Regions from separate parts of the Homo sapiens genome. Here region 1 is linked to region 2. Evidence: fine-mapped expression QTL. A gene starts in region 2. The other region holds a variant in brackets. All regions are shown on one strand. Distances are from middle to middle. Region 1 overlaps CNTN4 (contactin 4). Region 2 holds the start of CNTN4-AS1 (CNTN4 antisense RNA 1).

Region 1 (10,901 bases), 16 kb after region 2:
CCTGAGTAAGACTCTACAAAAGTGCGATCCAGAATAAAATAGACTAAGCCAGTGATCTATATTCCTGTCTGCCAACAACTGGTTGGAGTTGAGAAGTCTCATTCTGAACAATCACAAACTCTGCAGTTGGTGATAGTCCCAACACTTCCAATGTTGCTACATTGTCACATGCCTACCTCTGGACCTTTGCACTTCCTTTTTTGCAGTACTTGGGACATTCCCAGAGAGGTGCCAAGGCCCAACTGAAATCTCACCACTTAAAAGTGGCTTTCCTTGGCCTTTCTATAAAATAATACATCTCTCCTGTCCACTCCATGGCTTTCTCTATTCCCCTCACTCTAGCCTCTTTTTCTCTGCAGTACTTTGTTATCACTTATTCTATTTATTTATGGCTGGTAGGCAGAAGCACCAAGTGGCTAAATGTAGAACTCAGGATCCATACTGCTGTATTCGGATCCCAGGTCTTCAACATACCAGCTGTGTGAAAGGCAAGTGACTAAACTCTATGCCACAGCTCTTCATCCGTAAAACTAGCAATAATAACTGTACCTATCTTCATGGTTATTATACAGTTAAGATGAGGCCAGGCATGGTGGCTCATGCCTGTAATCCCAGCACTTTGGGAGGCTGAGGCAGGCGGATCACCTGAGGTCAGGAGTTTAAGACCAGCCTGGCCAACATGGTGAAACTCCATCTCTACTAAAAATACAAAAATCAGCCAGTCGTGGTGGTGGGCGCCTGTAGTCTCAGCTACTTGGGAGGCTGAGGCAGGAGAACTGCTTGAACCCTGGAGGCGGAGGTTGCAGTGAGCCAAGATTGTACCACTACACTCCACCTTGCGTGACAGAGGGAGACTCTGTCTCAAAATACAACAAAATAAAATATAAAGTTAAGATGAATTGGAACAGTGCTTAGTAGACGTATTAGTAGTAGTTTCTGAATGGACTGAACAGAACTCATTTATGTTATCTGCCTGGCCCTGCAGGTAGTTTAATTTGTGATACTAAAACCAGATGCTCTCCTTTTAGCTCTAATGCCATAAAGTAGCTTAAGGATTTGTGTTGACAAAATATTTGGGGCCTTAAACTTTCTAAAGTCAGCTTCTTGTTGAGACTGTCTACCTAAGCTGAGATCTAAAGAATTCAGACAACTTAGTGAAGAAGGGAAAATAAACCCACACCCCAACATGTTCAGTATTTGGGAGGAAAACTTAATTTTGGAAAGGGTCAGTCTGAGATAAACAATAGCCATATTTAATGGGTCAAATTCTCTAGCAAAGGTCAACTCTTCCGTTGCAATCAGATCCGCTTTTTATTCAGCCTCTAATCTCACCCTAAAAGTGACACTAGGGAGAGTTTCCTGAGCTATCATGGGACGTGAGATATCACGGGAGGTACCACACATACACACACACAAATACACACACACACACACACACACACACACAGAGAGAGAGAGAGAAAGAGAGAGAGTTATTCATTGGTACCTTGGTAATTCAGGGAACTGGCTTCAGGACCTCCCTAAAATACCAAAATCTGTGGATACTCAAGTCCTGGATATACAATGGTATAGAATTTGTGTATAACCTAAGCATATCTTTCCGTATACTTTAAATCAACTTTAGATTACTCATAATACCTAATATAATGTAAATGGTATGTAAATAGTTGTTATACTGTATTGTTTTTAAAATCTGTGTCATTTTCATTGTATTTTTTTGTGTGTTTTTTTTCCTGAATATTTTTGATCCACATTTGAGAGTATGGAACCTGTGGATACCTGTAGCTTTAAATTATGTATCTCTAAACATTCACATGTATATGTAGCAATTCAAAATGTATAGCCAGTTACAGTGACCTTCCTTGGGGTGTAGTTGAGGAGGTGTAGGGTGTCTGGCTCTTCCAGTACCACTCCTAAAAAGAAGGGGGAGTGACTGAGCTGGAAATTAAGAAGAACTCAGAAAGTGTCCTTTCCTACCATCTGGTCTAACCCTGTTACCCACTCTCAAGGGTGGTGATATCCCCTTGATCATTTTTTATTGCATCTATTTGATTCTTCTCTCTTTTCTTCTTTATTAGTCTTGCTAGCAGTCTATCAATTTTGTTGATCTTTTCAAAAAACCAGCTCCTGGATTCACTGATTTTTTGAATGGTTTTTTGTGTCTCTATCTCCTTCAGTTCTGCTCTGATCTTAGTTATTTCTTGCCTTCTGCTAGCTTTTGAATGTGTTTGCTCTTGCTTCTCTAGTTCTTTTAATTGTGATGTTAGGGTGTCAATTTTAGATCTTTCCTGCTTTCTCTTGTGGGCATTTAGTGCTATAAATTTCCCTCTACACACTGCTTTGAATGTGTCCCAGAGATTCTGGTATGTTGTGTCTTTGTTCTCGTTGGTTTCAAAGAACATCTTTATTTCTGCCTTCATTTCGTTATGTACCCAGTAGTCATTCAGGAGCGGGTTGTTCAGTTGCCATGTAGTTGAGCGGTTTTGAGTGAGTTTCTTAATCCTGAGTTCTAGTTTGATCGCACTGTGGTCTGAGAGACAGTTTGTTGTAATTTCTATTCTTTTACATTTGCTGAGGAGTGCTTTACTTCCACCTATGAGGTCAATTATGGAATAAGTGCGATGTGGTGCTGAGAAGAATGTATATTCTGTTGATTTGGGGTGGAGAGTTCTGTAGATGTCTATTAGGTCTGCTTGGTGCAGAGCTGAGTTCAATTCCTGGATATCCTTGTTAACTTTCTGTCTCGTTGATCTGTCTGATGTTGACAGTGGGGTGTTAAAGTCTCCCGTCATTATTGTGTGGGAGTCTAAGTCTCTTTGCAGGTCACTCAGGACTTGCTTTATGAATCTGGGTGCTCCTGTATTGGGTGCATATATTTTTAGGATAGTTAGCTCTTCTTGTTGAATTGATCCCTTTACCATTATGTAATGGCCTTCTTTGTCTCTTTTGATCTTTGTTGGTTTAAAGTCTGTTTTATCAGAGACTAGGATTGCAACCCCTGCCTTTTTTTTGTTTTCCATTTCCTTGGTAGATCTTCCTCCATCCCTTTATTTTGAGCCTATGTGTGTCCCTGCACGTGAGACAGGTTTCCTGAATACAGCACACTGATGGGTCTTGACTCTATCCAATTTGCCATCTGTGTCTTTTAATTGGAGCATTTAGCCCATTTACATTTAAGGTTAATATTGTTATGTGTGAATTTGATCCTGTCATTATGATGTTAGCTGGTTATTTTGCTCGGTAGTTGATGCAGTTTCTTCCTAGCATCAATGGTCTTTACAATTTGGCATGTTTTTGCAGAGGCTGGTACTGGCTGTTCCTTTCCATGTTTAGTGCTTCCTTCAGGAGCACTTTTAGGGCAGGCCTGGTGGTGACAAAATCTCTCAGCATTTGCTTGTCTGTAAAGGATTTTATTTCTCCTTCACTGATGAAGCTTAGTTTGGCTGGATATGAAGTTCTGGATTGAAAATTCTTTTCTTTAAGAATGTTGAATATTGGCCCCCACTCTCTTCTGGCTTGTAGAGTTTCTGCCAAGAGATCCGCTATTAGTCTGATGGGCTTCCCTTTGTGGGTAACCTGACCTTTCTCTCTGGCTGCCCTTAACATTTTTTCCTTCATTTCGACTTTGGTGAATCTGACAATTATGTGTCTTGGAGTTGCTCTTCTCGAGGACTATCTTTGTGGCATTCTCTGTATTTCCTGAATTTGAATGTTGGCCTGCCTTGCTAGGCTGGGGAAGTTCTCCTGGATAATATCCTGCAGAGTGTTTTCCAACTTGGTTCCATTCTCCCCGTCACTTTCAGGTACACCAATCAGACGTAGATTTGGTCTTTTCACATAGTCCCTTATTTCTTGGAGGCTTTGTTCGTTTCTTTTCATTCTTTTTTCTCTAAACTTCTCTTCTTGCTTCATTTCATTCATTTGATCTTCCATCACAGGTACCCTTTCTTCCAGCTGATCGAATTGGCTACTGAAGCTTGTGCCTTCGTCATGTAGTTCTCGTGCCATGGTTTTCAGCTCCATCAGGTCATTTAAGGACTTCTCTACATTGGTTAGTCTAGTTAGCCATTTGTCTAACCTTTTTTCAAGGTTTTCAACTTCTTTGGGATGGGTTCGAACTTCCTCCTTTAGCTCGGAGAAGTTTGGTCATCTGAAGCCTTCTTCTCTCAACTCATCAAAGTCATTCTCCATCCAGCTTTTTCCATTGCTGGTGAGGAGGTGCGTTCCTTTGGAGGAGGAGAGGTGCTCTGATTTTTAGAATTTTCAGTTTTTCTGCTCTATTTTTTCCCCATATCTGTGGTTTTATCTACCTTTGGTCTTTGATGATGGTGACGTACAGATGGGGTTTTGGTGTGGATGTCCTTTCTGTTTGTTAGTGTTCCTTCTAACAGTCAGGACCCTCAGCTGCAGGTCTGCTGGAGTTTGCTGGAGGTCCACTCCAGACCCTGTTTGCCTGGGTTTCAGCAGCGGAGGCTGCAAAACAGCAAATATTGCTGAACAGCAAATGTTGCTGCCTGATCGTTCCTCTGGAAGTTTTGTCTCAGAGGGGTACCTGGCTGTGTGAGGTGTCAGTCTGCCCCTACTGGGGGGTACCTCCCAGTTAGGCTACTCGGGGGTCAGGGAACCACTTGAGGAGGGAGTCTGTCCATTCTCAGATCTCAAACTCCGTGCTGGGGGAAACACTATTCTCTTCAAAGCTGTCAGACAGGGACATTTAAGTCTGCAGAGGTTTCTGCTGCCTTTTGTTTGGCTATGCCCTGCCCCCAGAGGGCAAGGAGGCAGGCAGGCCTCCTTGAGCTGCAGTGGGCTCCACCCAGTTTGAGCTTCCAGGCCGCTATTTACCTACTCAAGCCTCAGCAATGGCAGGCGCCCCCTCCCCCAGC[C/G]TCACTGCTGCCTTGCAGTTCGATCTCAGACTGCTGTGCTAGCAACGAGCAAGGCTCTGTGGGCATGGGACCCTCTGAGCCGGGCATGGGACCCTCTGAGCCATGCATGGGATATAATCTCCTGGTGTGCCGTTTGCTAAGACCATTGGAAAAGCGCAGTATTAGTATTAGGGTGGGAGTGCCCTGATCTTCCAGGTGCTGTCTGTCACAGCTTTGCTTGGCTAGGAAAGGGAATTCCTTGACCCTTTGCCCTTCCCAGGTGAGGCGATGCCTCGCCCTGCTTCAGCTTATGCTCGGTGCACTTCCCCCACTGTCCTGCGCCCACTGTCCGACAAGCCCCATTGAGATGAACCCAGTACCTCAGTTGGAAATGTAGAAATCACCAGTCTACTGCGTTGCTCACGCTGGGAGCTATAGACTGGAGCTGTTCCTATTTGGCCATCTTGGAACTGCCCACGTCCATCCTTAGCTTTTAAAAGGGCTGGCAGCTTCTGCTTTCTTCCTCTTGAAGCTGACAACTATGTAAGAAATCCGACTACTCTGAGGTCACCATACTGTGAGGAAGCCCAGGTTATCCGTGGGGAAAGGCCTCATAGAGAGCATGATCACTGGCCAGCCTCAGCTTTCCCACCTATCCCATCCAAGAAGCCAAAAGTGTGTGAAGAAGCATCTTAGTTATTCCAGCCCTAAAATCTGTCCATTCTGGCCCTATCCACATTGCAAAGTCATAAAAAATGATACACTGTTGCTGTTTTAGCCCCTAGCTTCAGGTTGGTTTGTTAGGTAGCAAATAGGTAGCTGGAAACGTTGCAAGATATTTATAACCCTTTTTGATTGCTGCAAGAAGGCTACAGACATGTTCTTTTCATTTTCTCATTAAAGACAAGCCAACATTTATGGGGTCAGGCAAACATTTTCTCCACTTTTCCTGCTTTTTCTCTCTTTTCTCTTTTTCTTTATATAACTCTTGACTATAGAAACATACGAACAAAAATGATTAATCATTGGTAATATCAGGAGGCTACTAAGTTGACTAAAAAATATATATAAACCGAGACAGGAGCAAAACGAAGCTGACAGTAGGAATGTTTAAAAAGTGGTTCTTCAGGGTATTTTTGGAGACCCAAACACAGGGTCTTTATCCATTTCTGATTGATGCTGCCTGAGACTAAAGTTAAGGTGATTGTCTAAATCCTGACCAATTGCCATAGACTATTTATACAACTCAGATCAAACCGTGTTGGAGGCAGCGATTCCTAGAGGGTAGGAGAGCATCACCAGGGAAACTGACAATGCAGACAACTGTATAATTCATGGAGGAGACTGCCCCCACTCACAGCACGATTAGGTGCCTTTGCAAAAAAGAAATTACCTACTTTGTATCCTTTTACTTCCGACTCATTATCCAGGGCCTTCACTTGATCCCAATTCAGGATAATTTTGGAGTCTGATGAATTCCATATGATGTTTCCGGGGGGTTGACTTGGTGCTATAAAAAAATTAAGATATACGAAGTCACAGATTATTAAGTCTCAATGGATTCTGAGGAATATCTCCTTACTAGAATTCGAGAGTGGAGGCAATTTAATGGGCTATTGCACTAATATGTGTCTTCAAGGTCACTAAAATCTGATGAGATACAGCATTGCAAATGGAAAAAGATTCAGTTGGTCGCCTAACATTTATAGCTAAAAGAAGTAGCCCTTCCCAGTGAGGAGAAAAACATTTATCTTTCTGTCCTCCACAGCAATGAATTTTGCGTGGTATACGGAAAGGTTCAGTTAAAATGCTGAGGGAAATTTGAATCCACATGCTACTAATTAGTATGCAAATGATCATTGGGAGGTGGGGATAAGGAATAAACTTGGGATATGTGTGATGAATCCCCAAAATATTTCTGAGCAAGTCTGTTCTTACGTGGCTTTCGGGTTGTCACATTGACTGTTGCACTAGAGGGGCCTGTCCCAGCAGAATTATATGCCTTGACAGCTAAGTGATACAGCACACTGCCTTTTAAGTTCGTGATTTTTGTTGATGTCTGATTTCCAACTGTTCGTATTTTTCTAGCATTTTCTTCTTTGTCTTCATGTCTCCAATATTTAACCTAAGAAGATAAACAGAAAGACCTTGGAAACCATACCCAATGGGGATATTTGCAATGTCATCAGGTAATTTTGTACGCAGATTCTTATGATGGAGTTAGTTTTCTATACTACATCATGAGCAGAGCTATCAGGACAAAGGACTCTGTATATCCTGAGAAATTATCCAAAGTAAGAAGGGTCCCTTTTTTGTCCTTAGCTTCCTAGTGAGACGGTACATTGACACAACCGTCGTTCATTATTTTCTTTTTTCCCATGTTTGTTTTGAGTCAAAGTGATCCTGGGCATATCAGAAGTCAAAGCTCATTTTGCCAACCATCCCGTAAATGCTTAGATTTGCATATAATTCGAAAAATACCTCTAGAATATAACATAGAAAAAGGGTAGTCTCACAGCTGAGTATTCAATGCTTCCATTAATGTTCAGCTGGAAGCCAGGCCTAAAACCAATGCCTCTTAGTGGGAATGTGGGTCTCTTCCTATAAGAATGTGACTTGGAGGACTTATCAAGGGGCATAGACTCTCTTTCAGACCCAAGGCACATATGTCTTGCCTACCTCATAACCTTGTATTCGTCCTCTATTCTTCTCCAGTGGGGAGGCCCAGAAAACTTCAATATCTGTGGCAGAAAGACTTCTGGCAAAGATACTGGCTGGTGGTTTGGTGGGTTCTGTAGATGAATATGGAGATAGTTATTACTCTATCAGCTATATTAGGACAGGATTGTAGATACTAGCATTATAAGGTAAAATAATTCATGGTTATAGAATCGTCCTTAATGATTGTAAGCCAAACCCTCATTTTGCAGAGGGGCAGTGATTAATAGCTGGAGTTGGTGGTAGTGAATATTTGTCCAGTGTTTGGGTTCTGAATTTAGGTGTGGGTAGAAGAGAAGAACCACTTAAGTTTAAGCACCAAGTTTTCATAGCCAGCAATTCCCTTAACACAGATCCTTCTTAATTAGCATCTCACAAATGTTATTGCTTACGACATGGCTAAACTGCTTCTCTTTTTCTTTTTTGAAATAGGGTCTCACTCTGTCACCTAGGCTGGAATGTAGTGGCACAATCATGGCTCACTGCAGCCTGACCTCCTGAGCTCAAGCCATCCTCCCGCCTCAGCCTCCCAAGTAGCTGGGACCACACACACATGTGCCAACACGCCTGGCTAATGTTTTTTTGTAAAGACTTGGATCTTGCTATGTTGCCCAGGTTGGTCTCAAACTCCTAGGCTCATGCTATCCTCCCACATCCCCCTCCCAAAGTGCTGGGATTACAGGCATGAGCCACTGTGCTTGCCCACTAAATTTTTTTTAAGGAAGACTATTGAAAGAAAAATGTGAACATATACAAATGGTACACAGCTATGGCAGAAATCTGGCAAAAATAACTGAAATTTGGGAAACAGTCAGTCTAGCCTCTCCTTTGCAGCCAAAGATGCTGAGGCCCACAGAGTATACCTGAGTTATCCAAGATCATACAGATTGCAGTGTGAACCTGAAGTGTCATCCAGCTCTCTTGAATCTTAGTCAAGTCAGCTGACTGTCCTTTTCCCCTTTTCCTCTCATTTTCATAATCCAGAGACATGAACTATTATCTAAGAGAAGTTGAAGGCTATGAAAAGGGCTGAAGCTTGTTTGAATAATTGTAAATCCTTTGGCAATGGTTGGAACATGAAATATGCAGGGAAAGGCATCAGCAGCTGAGGCAGACAGAGAGGCAGCAGCTAGATCATGGAGGGCTACTGAGTCTAAGGGGATGATCTCTCTGATTGGGAATAAGTTATTGCATCTTCACTGACTCTAAATCAATGATTCACCTTTCAGATGTTTTAACATGGTCCCATTCTGAGCATCATCTTTAAAACAACATAGACGAACTCCAAAGGTAACGAAGACTGTGTGAGAGGCATCCCGAGAGCAGGGATAGCATGGAGGTGATAATAATGTGTGAGAAATGTTAAACATAATGATGGTGTGGATGACAGTGAGCGCAATCACACTGCTTCATGACTTACTCTTTTCTTTAATAAGTGAGATTTTTTTTTTTTTTTGAGATGGAGTTTTGCTCTTGTTGCCCAGGCTGGAGTGCAGTGGTGCGATCTCGGCTCACCGCAACCTCCGCCTCCTGGGTTCAAGTGATTCTCCTGTCTCAGCCTCCTGAGTAGCTGGGATTACAGGGATGTGCCACTACAACTGGCTAATTTTATATTTTTAGTAGAGATGGGTTTTCTCCATATTGGTCAGGCTGGTCCCGAACTCCCAACCTCAGGTGATCCACCCGCCTTGGCCTCCCAAAAGTGTTGGGATTACAGGTGTGAGCCACAAGTACCATATGCTTTATGAAAATACAAGTGGTAAGAAAATGCAAATTATATTTTGATATTCACTTAAAGGCAAAAATAAAATTCTTTTGAAAGTAATGATAACATATAGATAGATATGAAGATCTTATATGGTATTTGCAATTCTGGTCCTTAGCAATGGAATCAATAATGGACAGCCAAGTGTTTTCATATACAGAGCAGTCGCTATCTTTTCAAGAGATTCATGGTGGACAGCGAACCAAATTGTTTACATTATCCTCTTCTCAAATCAGGTATGCCTTCAAGATACATGTACCATGCGAAATTGATTGTACGTGCTACAATCCACATTTTAGAATTGAAGAAATATTAACAGTCAATGATCTAGGCAGCATAAACGATACCTTCTTCTGCAGAATACACCACCGTGGTGGGACTGAAAGGGCCTTCTCCTTTGTTGTTGAAGACACCTACTTTAACCTCAAAGGGAGAGAAGGGGTGCACGCTCTCATTCCTGAACACGTATCTAGAGGCATCAGCTGAGGCCAGCACTGTCAGCATCCAGATCATTTTACCGTAGGGCCGGAAGGCCACCACATAACCAAAGCCTCGACCATTCTGTAATTCCTCAGGGACCGTCTGGGAAAGAAGGAAGGTGGTCTTCAGAAATCACAGTAGTTTCACTCAAATGCAAAAATCGTTTTTGTTTCCCTTGTAACATTCTTGTCTACATCCTTCTCCACCCATCTTATTTGGCGTTTTGTTAACAGTCTTTTAAATTTAGGGCTTGCAGTCAGTCTATCTTAAACAGTTATGATGTACTGGACAGGGTTGAAAACGTAATGAGGATCTGCAGTCCAGAGCTTGCTCTTTGATGGGGCAGACCCAGCTCTGAAATGGTTGGAAATGATTGTAAAAAAAAAAACACTGGACATCGGTCTCCTGAAAAACCACATTTCCAACACGTATCCTCTAATACTAATCTTCTTCCATTGCCAAATAGACAAAAGATCTCACTGAAGGAAGAAAAACCATCTTGGCTGAAGATCCTCCCTCTCAGAGGGAAGAGTTCAGCTGGAGGGATGAGTGATTTCTTTCACTGCTGTGCTTTGGGTAAATGAGAGATTTTAATTTCTGGGGCTGTTTAGAATCTTTCAAAAACATGAAGAACCCTTTCTAAAGCTCCCACCTCTTCTCTCAAAGCCAATTTTTAATAAATTGGTGACTAACTTTCCTCCAGGTTGTTTTAAAAAATACCTCCTAAAAGAGGGCCCCTTCTAGAAGCAAAGCCAATTGCCAGGAAATTGTGCTGGTGCACTGAATCTATTGCTGGCAGACGTTTTAAATCAATTGGCCATGCAGCAATTCAGGAAGAAAAGAAAAACTAGTTTTCTCTGAAACAGCCTTCTTTATTTTTTTTTGTAACGTGTGTTGTCTTCCCTTCATAATTGTTTTTACTGTGATGGATTGAATTAAAACTTGCCTCAACAATGGATGGGCAAGTGCCGTCCTTCCTGCTAGCCATTAGCTACGTGAGAGGGAGTGTCTGAACCCAAATGAATTTTCACTGTTAAAAACAGAGGAGGAAACTTCCCAGCTATGTCTAACATGGA
Region 2 (10,901 bases):
TCTCGGCTCTTTGCCACCTGAAAATCTTTGCTCAACTTCCAGTTTGAATTAAGTGTCCCTCTATGTTCCTTTTGTTTAATTCTATCAGTGATTGGACTTTCATTTATTTATTTATTTTGAGACAGAGTCTGACTCTGTCGCCCAGGCTGGAGTGCGGTGGCGAGATCTCGGTTCACTGCAATCGCCGCCTCCGGGTCTCAAGCCATTCTCCTGCCTCAGCCTCCCCAGTAGCTGGGCCTACAGGCACGTGCCACCACAGCCAGCTAATTTTTATATTTTTAGCAGAGACGGGTTTTCACCATGTTGGCCAGGATGGTCTCGATCTCCTGACCTCGTGATCCACCCGCCTCGGCCTCCCAAAGTGCTGGGATGACAGGCGTGAGCCACCGCACCTGGCCTGGACTCCTCACCAATGCTCTGTCTCGTTTCCAGTGCAAACACTCTGAGGCCAAGAGCAGTGTCTGACTTATCTTTGTGTCCATAAGCCCCAAGGAGGAACTGACTGCTGGTTGAGTAACCAGACGAAGGAAAAGGAAGTGAGCTTATTAAACATTTAAAAGAACGGAAAACAATATAGATTCTAAAGAACTATGTTCTAATGGTAGGTTCATTTATTAAAGCTGTGTGGTTATAGCAGAAGTTAAATCGTCACTGGAGCTTAAATTAATGAAGTAGTAAAAACTCACAGTGGGTGTGATGCTGGTCTCAGAAACGCTGCCCTCCACCTCCGCGGCCGGCATCACCCACCATTTGGCTCTCAGTAGACATCTGCGTTGTTGGTTGTCAGGAGCAACACAAAGCCGCCCATATGGCCCATGTGCATGATTTTAAAGTTCTAGCGGACTCTTTTCAACTTGAAGGTGTTTTATTAGGTTTGTTTCATTTATTAAAATTAAAAGCAAAGATTTGTCCCTGCCAAGTAATAAACTGGAAGAACACAGAAACCTGAGGGGAAAATTGCAAGAACGAAATCAGCAATAAAGTACTGGTGTCGTAGTTTAAAGGTCGGCAAGCTGCTGCTGCCTTTTTTTTTTTTTTTTTAAGACAGGGTCTCCTGTCTCACCCAGGCTGGAAAGGCTGGAGTGCAGTGCTGTGATCACCGTTCACTCCAGCCTCGACCTCCCGGGCTCAAATGATCCTCCCACCTCAGCCTCTCGCGTAGCTGGGACCACATGGGTGTGCCACCATGCCCAGCTAATTTATAAAATTTTTTTGTAGACACAGGGTCTCCCATGTTGCCCAGGCTGGTCTTGAACTACTGGGCTCAAGTGATCATCCAGCCCTTGGCCTCCCAAAGTGTTGGAATTACAGGCACGAGCCAGCAAACTCTTCTTAAAGGGCTAGATAGTAAATATTTTCAGCTTTGAGGACCATATGGTCTTTGTGGCAGCCACTCAGTTCTTCCGTGATAGCACAGAGTGGCCGTAGGCAATCTATAAATCAGCATGGCTATGTTGCAATAAATCTTGATTTACAAAAAAAGCGGGCAATGAGCTAGATTTTCCCAGAGGGCCAATATTGACACATGGCTTAATGGATTCAAAATATTTATGAATGTGTTTTTCTTTTTTTTAAGAAAAGCAACCAATTTGGGAAAATAATCATGTTTAATCAAATGAAAATATTCTATCCTGGGGGATCAATGGTAAAAAAAATTGTGTTTGACTGAACTTAACCTCATTATAAGTAGGTTTTGCAAGAAACACAGGTCCAGCATTGTGTTCATACCTTTATCTGTCACACTATTCACACCATCCTTCAATAAGTGTATTTCTGTCTCCTTCAGTGAACCATGAGGGAAGCCTTAACCCTATTTATCTCAGTTTCTCCAGTGCCCAGCAAGTGCTTGACACATAGTATGCACTCAATATCTTATTTGTTAACCACTAAATTCAAGAGGAACAACTGGGCCAATTCTAACTGCCAGTTATTTGGTCTCGGATATTTGGTCCCAACACTGCAGTTGATAAACGATGCGTCCACTACATAGTTTTCCAACGAGCTGTGCTGTGGCCTATGTTCCTGGCAACAAACCCATTTTTTTAAGCTTTCAGAATATTTCTGGAATCCCTTCCACCTGCTTTAACACCTTCTTGCCACATAATGTGGGCCTTTGCTGGGGAAAGATTCCCTTGTCTTAAAACTCTTTTCTGGGCTGGGTGCGGTGCCTCACGCCTGTCATCTCAGCACTTTGAGAAGCCAAGGTGGGTGGATCACCTGAGATCAGGGGTTCGAGACCAGCCTGACCAACATGGAGAAACCCGTCTCTACTAAAAATACAAAATTAGCCAGGCGTGGCGGCGCATGCTTGTAATCCCAGCTACTCAGGACGCTGAGGCAGGAGAATCACTTGAACCCGGGAGGCGGAGGTTGCAGTGAGCCGAGATTGCGCCATTGCACTCTATCCTGGGCAACAAGAGCAAAATTCCGTCTCAAAAAACAAACAAAAAAAAAACAAAACCTCTTTTCTGCCAGCTCTAAGAGGAACTTCACCCACCAGCCCTGTCTCTCTGGACACACACACATCCCATCCTCACACCATCCAAGGAAAAGTGGGAAGGAGAGTTCAGCAAACGAAACAGAACTCAAAACAGCAAACTTCATGTCTCGCCCTCAGAGCCATTGACCTTCAGAGATCTGACAACACATTCGCAAGACCCTGAAATTTTGAATTACAAATTAATTACTTCAATGAGAGTAATGAAGACCTCCTGGTGTCAGGTTGCCAGATTTAGCAAATAAAAATAAGAGGCTCAGTTAAAGTTGAATTTCAAATAAATATCACATGGGGCATACTTATACTAAGGAAGCATAATTTTTTTTTTATCTGAAATCTAAGTTTAATAGCTCCTCTCCTATTTTATTGGGTAATCCTGATCTTGAAGGGTAGCCGGAGTTTAAAGAAACAGCTCTAAGACACCTGAAGTCAAGGACAACGAACACGCAAAAAACAACATTTGCAGTCAAGGAAAGAGAAGCAGAGAAGCTGAGCCACTTTAGAGCAGACTGAAGCTCATGACTGCCTTTCCTTCTTGTTGCTATATGGGAACCGTATCTATCTGTCTATTTATCTATCTACCTACCTTATTGTTTATGTATCATCTATTTACAGATAGAGACATCTAATGTTTTGGAGTAGGGCCCTAAACCCAAGCCACCAGCATTTCAATTCCTGGTCTCTCTGATCAACTGTGTGATCAGGGACAAATGTGAACCTGTCAACCTCAATCCTCTGTGTATAAAATAGGAATAATAAATGGTAACTAAATCGGTAGGTTGATTTGCACTGAGTCTGGCACATATTATAAGCATAATCACTGTTTACTATTATTATTATCATTGCATTTCTCTGTATTGTGACAAAATACTGTTACTGGTGCCTTGGCTTCCTCACACACATCTGAATGCCACATCATTCTTCTATGCCCAGAATAGTGCCTGGTACAGAGAGGGCTGCCAGTAGTCCCTTGCTGAATAACTAAAACCCTCTCCAGGCACCTATCCTATCCCATTCCTCCAGATGGCTGTGCCCTGGGCCTGGCCGGCACTCAGAACTTCTCCACCTCCAGCATCTGAACCTCAGACATCTCACCCTTCTACCTCACCATTTCCTCTGGCCTACCTACTTGTCCTAGAATGTTCTCTAGTTGAACTTCAGAGTCTAGTTCCTTACTCCATCCTGTCCTTTCTCTAAGTACTTATTTCTAGGTGTATGAAATGCACTAATGAGTCTATGTTCTAAATTCTAGTCCTTCTTTTTTTTTTTTTCTTTTGTTTGAGACAGAGTCTCACTCTCTTGCCCAGGCTAGAGTGCAGTAGGGCAATCTCAGCTCACTACAACCTCTGCCTCCCAGGTTCAAGCAATCCTCCTGCCTCAGCCTCCTGGGTAACTGGGACTACAAGCACGTGCCACCATGCCCAGCTAATTTTTGTATTTTTAGTAGGAATGGGGTTTCACCATGTTGGCCAGGCTGGTCTCGAACTCTTGACCTTGTGATCCCCCCACCTCAGTCTCCCAAAGTGCTGGGATTACAGGTGTGAGCCACCATGCCCAGCCCTGACTTTCTAATTGTCTATGTTACTTTGGGCTTCTTATATAACCTCTTTGCTTCCATTTCATAAATAAAAAAGGAATAAAAACCTATGTCCTCCCCTTATTAGTGTGAAAAGCACTTTGAAAACTAGAAAAACAAATTAAAGATATTACTATTTGTTAAAGTCCTAGGACATATATATTTCCTGGTATAGTTCGTGTTATTCCTAACAATAAGGATATGTGGCAAAAACCCAGTTTACAGAGAATGGGGATATCACATGTAATTGCATCTATATTTAAGTAGCTCAGCCTTCCAATTTCCAGACTTTCAGATCGATCATATGGTTGACCTTTTTTAAAAAAAGCTTTCTCTCTATGTGATCTATATCACTAGAGCTCTGCTAATCTACCATGGCCCATAACTGCTTGTGATAAAGGATAGAGGCCAATTTTGTTTAAACTGTGATCTCTGTTGAGTATTGTAGTTTGCAGGTGAGTTGCAGAGCTGGAACATTTAATCCGCATGGCCCATTTAGCACAAGGGGAAACGGGGCCTCTTTGCAGAATGGGCAGCCTGACTTGCATTTACTAATCACACTCTGGCAGGGGGCCTGAGGAAATCACAGGAAACGGGGCCAGATATTCTCCTCCCTCTAGGTCTGAGATGGAGGTGACACAGGCCTTGTGCCTGGGAGCACAATGAGGAACCACACCCAGATGCCAACGCTGAGGTGCCGTGTGTCTACTATAAGGCGGAAGACACCAACAAAAATGATTTAAATATAAGGTACGAAGGGATGACTGACATGAGTGGGTACAGACCCCATCCCCTGGAGGTCAGAGAAATGCAAGGTCAATTTCAGATGGGGAAGCTGAGGGAGGCTTTGTGCAAAACCTGGCATCTGAATGGGAACCCTACTGCCTAAGTTTGAATTAGTTGATTGTATGATTAAAATTATCGAACATTAAAATTTATATTAAGAAGTGATCATGTTTAAATAAAAGGTGATAATGGATGTGTCAGCTGAGTTCCACTCATTTTGGTGATAAGAAGCATCCACATCCTACATCTGTGGGTCTAGTAAAGTCCCTGGAGAAAAAGAACAATAACAGACGGTAAAATCATCACTGTTTGGAGAGCTTTACAAACTTTATCCTCCCTAATAAGTAGCCAATCATTACAATGCACCCCAGGCAGTCAAACTCCAGGATCCACGTCCTTAGTCTTTGTATTAGGCTGCCTTTGTAAGGCCTCAGTGTCTGGCATTTTGTAATGGAAAAATCTGGGGTATGTCCACAGATTGAATATAAGTCCTTGATTTTAAAGGCTTGCCTTTCAAAGCACTATGGTTGGCCACATAACGTTTTTAGCCAGAACATTTTGTAAATTGTAACAACAGGAAAATAACAGTCACTTCTTGATTATAAGTGTTAACGGAGGAGAACAGTAGCATCGATAATCCAATGTAGTGAACAAAAATCACCTGTTGGTTGATTACATTAGATTAAAAACTGCATGACATTTTTGTTGCTAATTATGTGCTATTTGTATACTTTTTATAACTCAACATTCTTTGCGCATATTTGTAGTGAGGCAAGGTGGTGGAAGAGACTGGGTAAAGGTTAATCAGGATTTAACATTGCCTCCTGGATATAAACAACCACAATTTTGATGGTGGGAATAACACAATCATTCTTTCTTAATATCAAAGTCTATGCACCTTCTACCTCACAGGCTGGAAGAATTCAGAGCTTACCTGAGAAATGAAGCTTATCATCCATGTCTTCTGTGCCCATGGAAAGGTGCTGCTTTGTATGTAGCATGTGTGGGCTCCATAGAAAGTAGGTACACTGAGAGAATCCAAATATCTGGCACAATAGAATTTCCTTTCATACAGTTAAATCACAAGTGGACTACACACACAAAAAGGAGGGCAAGAGTAAGCACTTTGAAAGGTTAAACAAGCAAAGCAAATTTTCCTAGTGGTCCTCCTTCAGAAAAAAATCTCAAGCAGCAATATAGTCATTCCACTCGAGTGTATTACTTGGGCTAAGGGCCTAAGAAAGTCCCCTTGGCTGGCTAAGCCTAGAAAATCTGTTACTTATACCAACCCAGCATTTCTTCTCTTACCTTTGGAAAACAGCATCTTAGTTTTCCTTTAACTATCCCTCCCCTGTGAGTACAAGGTACTCTGGCTGTGGAACTCAAATGGAACTGATCACTTTCCCAGGAATCTGAATATTGAGCATAATGGCGTCAAAATTGGAAACAAAGCTGATTCATCCCCACAATAGCACCCCAAAAAGACTTTCCAAAGTTCCCATTGTCTGGACCCACAGAGTGGCCTGGTTCTTATTCTCCTCAAGAGTTGGTCCTTCAGTGTTTCCTTGGCTCATATGATGTAACCTGTGTCATTCTAATTCCTTACTTTTTGTTTGCTCAAGTTACCCAGGGTCGTTTCTTTGCTTACAGCCAGTGGACCCTACCTGAGGCAACCATGAAAGCCAACAAATGAGACAAGTTTGGGTGGAGGTGCTCATGGGGCACTTTCTAAAACATCTTCAATTCAGTTAGACTCAACTAATCCAGGACCTCATTTACCCGATGATGAAGCCAATTGGTCAAAGACTTCTTCCAGGTACAAAGTTAGAAGCCAGGCCTTTTAACGCTTTTCAGCACATAACGAAAGTAATGACACAGTCTTCCCTGGTTGGTTTGCTGTGGCACACAGGCAGGCAACTGATGCAAAATGCTACTTCAAAGACCCCTTCATTCAATTAATCAGTGAGTATTTATTGCAAGGCACTGTGCTAGGCACTATGGAGAGTACATGGAAGATAAGACCAAAGTCCCTGCCCTCAAGGAGCTTACAATCTAGTTGGGAAGACAAGCCATACATACAAGAAAAAGTAAGTAACAATACAGGAGTTAAATTAAAATGCAAGATAACAGTACAAGAGATTTCCAAAAGTAGTATCTGATTAATTACTAAATGAGCAGCATTGATAGGGGATGCAACTACTTCCAAGCGAGAATGTCATAAAGGACTGAAGCATGGGAAGTCTTTGCAGACAAACTGGGGCTGGAGCTACCCTAGGACAGCAGGGATCTGAATGGGAGAGAAGGGTGGAGAAGGCATTTCAGGAAGGGGCAGCCATAAGACCAAAGGCACAGAGGTGAGACCAAAAGCAAGCAGTGTTCAGGGGTCAGGGAGGGCTTACTGTGGCTGGATACACAGTTAAATCGTTTTGGATTAAAAAGGGCCTTAAGGGCCGGGTGCGGTGGCTCAAGCCTGTAATCCCAGCACTGTGGGAGGCCGAGGCGGGCAGATCACCTGAGGTCAGGTGTTTGAGACCAGCCTGACTAACATGGTGAAATCTCGTCTCTACTAAAAATCCAAAAATTAGTCCGGTGTAGTGGTGGGCGCCTCGGGAGGCTGAGGCAGGAGAATTGCTTGAACCTGGGAGGCGGAGGTTGCAGTGAGCCGAGATCGCAACATTGCACTCCAGCCTGGGTGACAAGAGTGAGACTCCGTCTCAAAAAAAAAAGAGCCTTAAATGCTCAAGCTTAGAACTTACCCTTTTAGCAATGGGGGGTGAGGGAAACAACAGATATACTTACAGTAAATATACAAAAGACTTAGCTAATCAAGAGAAAATATTCAAGTCTCATCTTCAGGACATTTACTTGTGGATTAGGACCCTCTCTACTTCCAAAGAGGATTTGAAATGGTGCTTCAGGGTTGTCAATTCCAAAGGAAAAGCTCTGGGTCATCTAGATTTGGGTAGAGACTTTTGAGTCCCTCTATGATCCCAAATTATAACTAGCACAAAGGTAAGCTAACAAATTCCCTGACAGGCAGGCAGGAAAAATGCTCCCGAAAGACAAGTATCTTTACAAATGACAGAATATTTATTAACAATACCTTTAAAAAAGATTACATATGCTAGATCACTGGTAAATATCATTTACACTGGGGTTGGGAACTCCCTGGGTGTCATTTTTTTTCGTTCATTTTATTATTTTGCTGATTTTTTTTTTGCATGTGATTTTAAATTTTATTTCAACATAGAAGTAACCATATCAAACTAAGAAAGGAACACAGCTTGAAATACTGACAATATTTTTTTCCGGTTACCACCCTAGTTTTTACACAAATGGAATCCCGATTATGACTTTATTGGATAAATATAACTAGAAGGTTGAAAAGTTATATTATTTGTAAGCAAAAATGACAAACTATAGCAAATTTGAGTTCTCTGAGAAAGAAGAAAAGGTGGCAGCATGTTTACATGAGAAAATGTTTATAGAAAATTCCATTGCCTTTTATGTCACTGTCCAGTAGGGTTTACTCACAAAACCTTTCTCATTGTAACAAATAGTTCTTTTCATAAGAATACAGTTTTGTTGATATTGTCATTTTCCAATGTGTGATTTTAAGACCTAGAAGGTAAAGCATATAAAGCAACTAGGCTACCTATTGCAAAACAGAATCATCAAGAAACCATACAATTGTACTAAAGAGCTTTTATAGAGTCATATTAAAAATTCTTGCAGCAACTATTTGTTGAAATAGGAGCAATCTTCCAAAGTCCATATGTAATTTTGATTCAAAAGAAGGGCTCTATTATTACAGAGATACACATATTATATATAAGAAATTTTGTAAAGAAATTACGAATCCATTGACAGAGAATTACTTTTTTTAAATTTACATTCAAAATAGATACAGTTAAAGATAATAAAATGATCTTTTATCCTTTGAAAGACTTGGTTGACTATAGTAACTTTGGGTCTATGTTACTACAGGATATATGTTACTTCAAATTTAATGTCTAAGATAATGCTACCACAAAGACAATGCTAACTCAGTTGAGTGAAAAGAAAATCTTCCTGTACAATGCTAAATTCAGGGATGGGAATATTGCACAAGGTGCCTCTTGGGCAGTACATTGAGCTTTTGAGATTGCAGCCATTCCTGAAACCATCTCAAGTTGGGTTGAACAACAAAATTCACAACGGCATGAAAACATACTGTACATGTCAAAATCACAACGGCATGGGAAACATACTGTACATGTCAAGTGCATTAACCACTAGAAGAGTAGTTTGCATACAACAGCCTTGAGTTACGGACCAAGTCTTCCGCTGTTCTGCCATGAGATCCTTGTAAAACTGTACGAGTAATTTGCAATTTATTTACCAAGATGAGTTTCAAACTCTGTCTTTAAAGGAAATATTTTCAAATTATAATTGCATGATTGTGTTGCCCATAGCATTTTACAGCCGAGGAAAAAATTAATATCTACATTATATGTTAACTTTAAAAAATTCTATAAAACACTAAATATATAATAAAAAATATGCATATAAGGACATATGTAAACTGCTTTGGTAACATCATATTACAGATGTCTTCAGTGCATTGCAGAGTTTCCAAAGAAACTTCAGACAAAGCTAGATTTGCTTTGAGGAAGTACTGTATAATGCCATTCCTAAAGAAGCAAAAAACATTTTTATTCCAGTAATAAGATGTACTTGAACAACAATATTACTTAGTACTGGGTGTCTTCAAAACAACTAGCTAAATGTTGCTTATATTATAAACAGCAAGTCCTTCAGATAACTTTTGTCATAAACTGGACCTAGCTGTGAGGGAAATCATTATTGTACTGATGGCTGACAGCGTACATGCATTCGAAGTGGAAGCCCCAGATCCTCTCGCGTAGGCATCTGAAAAGAGAGAACAAATTCACTCAAAACAGCCCCATCCCGGCTTCAAAGGGAAGAGGGGCCACGGGGCTTTTTGAAACAGCAGAACTGCATGGATTCTACTGGAAATGATGATCAAGGTCTTAATGGCTTTTAAATATCAGTTCTATGACTACCAAGCTACAAACCTGGGAGTAGGGTATAGGACAGCCCTGTACCTCTGTCAAAGCATTTGTAAAGTAAGGAGGTTCCTATCTAATGTGAGAAGAAACTTCAATATTACTAGTAACAATACTGATAAACAGCATGCTATGTCGATGATTCAACAAAATGAAAATTGCTGCTCCCTTTTGAACTCTATCTTTCTGCTGGGCACAGATGAATATGACACTTAAATCTTGCAAAAACTGGATGAAGGCCAGGTATTATTATTACCTCGCTTAACAGATGGCGGTAATTTGCGCCCAGAGAAATAAAGTAACTTATCTAAGATCACCCAGCTAGTAAATGGCTAAACTGGGGTTCAAACCCATGTCTGTCTAAATCTACCCCTTTTCTGCAAACAAAATAGCCTCAATCCTTTTTTAAATTTTCTTATGGGTCTTACACTTTTCATAGTAAGAAGCTATCAACTGTCATTCGGGGGTTCTTCAATCTTGTAAGGTCTCTTTGACCAACATGATGAAAAATCTCTTGAAACAGATCATGTTTGGTTCACAGTCACTTCCTTGTTATCTAATAATTACACCAATATAATTGCTTAATATATGTTTTTGTAATGAATAAAACCAGGAATCATCAGTCTATCTAAAAATGTCAATCCCTGCAATGATAAGAAAGTATGAAGTATAAAGTCAGATTTTTAATGAAGCGAGATAAGCCCCAATCTTGTATTTTTGTGGCCTGGAGATTTTACTTCCACATCTCACCAAAAATCTAGCTCCCTTTCGATAGAAGTTAGAGGCTTTGTTTGATAAAGTATAATCCAATTGTCCCCCTTTTAAGACAAAAATGCCTTTTGTGTTTGTATGCAAAAAAGATGCAGTAAATATAAACTCCATCCAGAAACACTGGCATATCACCCCTTAGCAGAGGGATGTCACATGGCTAAAAGTCAGGATGGTGGTGAGGATTTTGTCCATAATTTAAAAT

The links.
Region 1: its variant is fine-mapped to the expression of CNTN4-AS1 in whole blood (INTERVAL, PIP 0.95).

The regions. Positions count from the first base shown.
Region 1 is chr3:3,039,063-3,049,963 of GRCh38, reverse strand. It overlaps CNTN4 (contactin 4), which reads right to left. Exons shown (of 25, transcript NM_175607.3): 20 at 9,693-9,927; 21 at 7,542-7,654; 22 at 6,801-6,987; 23 at 6,260-6,372. CNTN4-AS1 (CNTN4 antisense RNA 1) reads left to right here. Exons shown (of 4, transcript NR_046554.1): 2 at 6,951-7,051; 3 at 8,810-8,919; 4 at 9,582-10,303. Among named protein-coding and RNA genes, the nearest start is that of CNTN4-AS1, 17 kb to the left of the region's middle. RefSeq lists an enhancer at 10,652-10,901. The variant C/G (reference allele first, on the strand shown) is at 4,884.
Region 2 is chr3:3,054,989-3,065,889 of GRCh38, reverse strand. It overlaps CNTN4-AS1 (CNTN4 antisense RNA 1), which reads left to right and starts at 4,745. Exons shown (of 4, transcript NR_046554.1): 1 at 4,745-4,823. It overlaps CNTN4 (contactin 4), which reads right to left. Exons shown (of 25, transcript NM_175607.3): 25 at 7,931-9,770. The coding sequence ends at 9,670.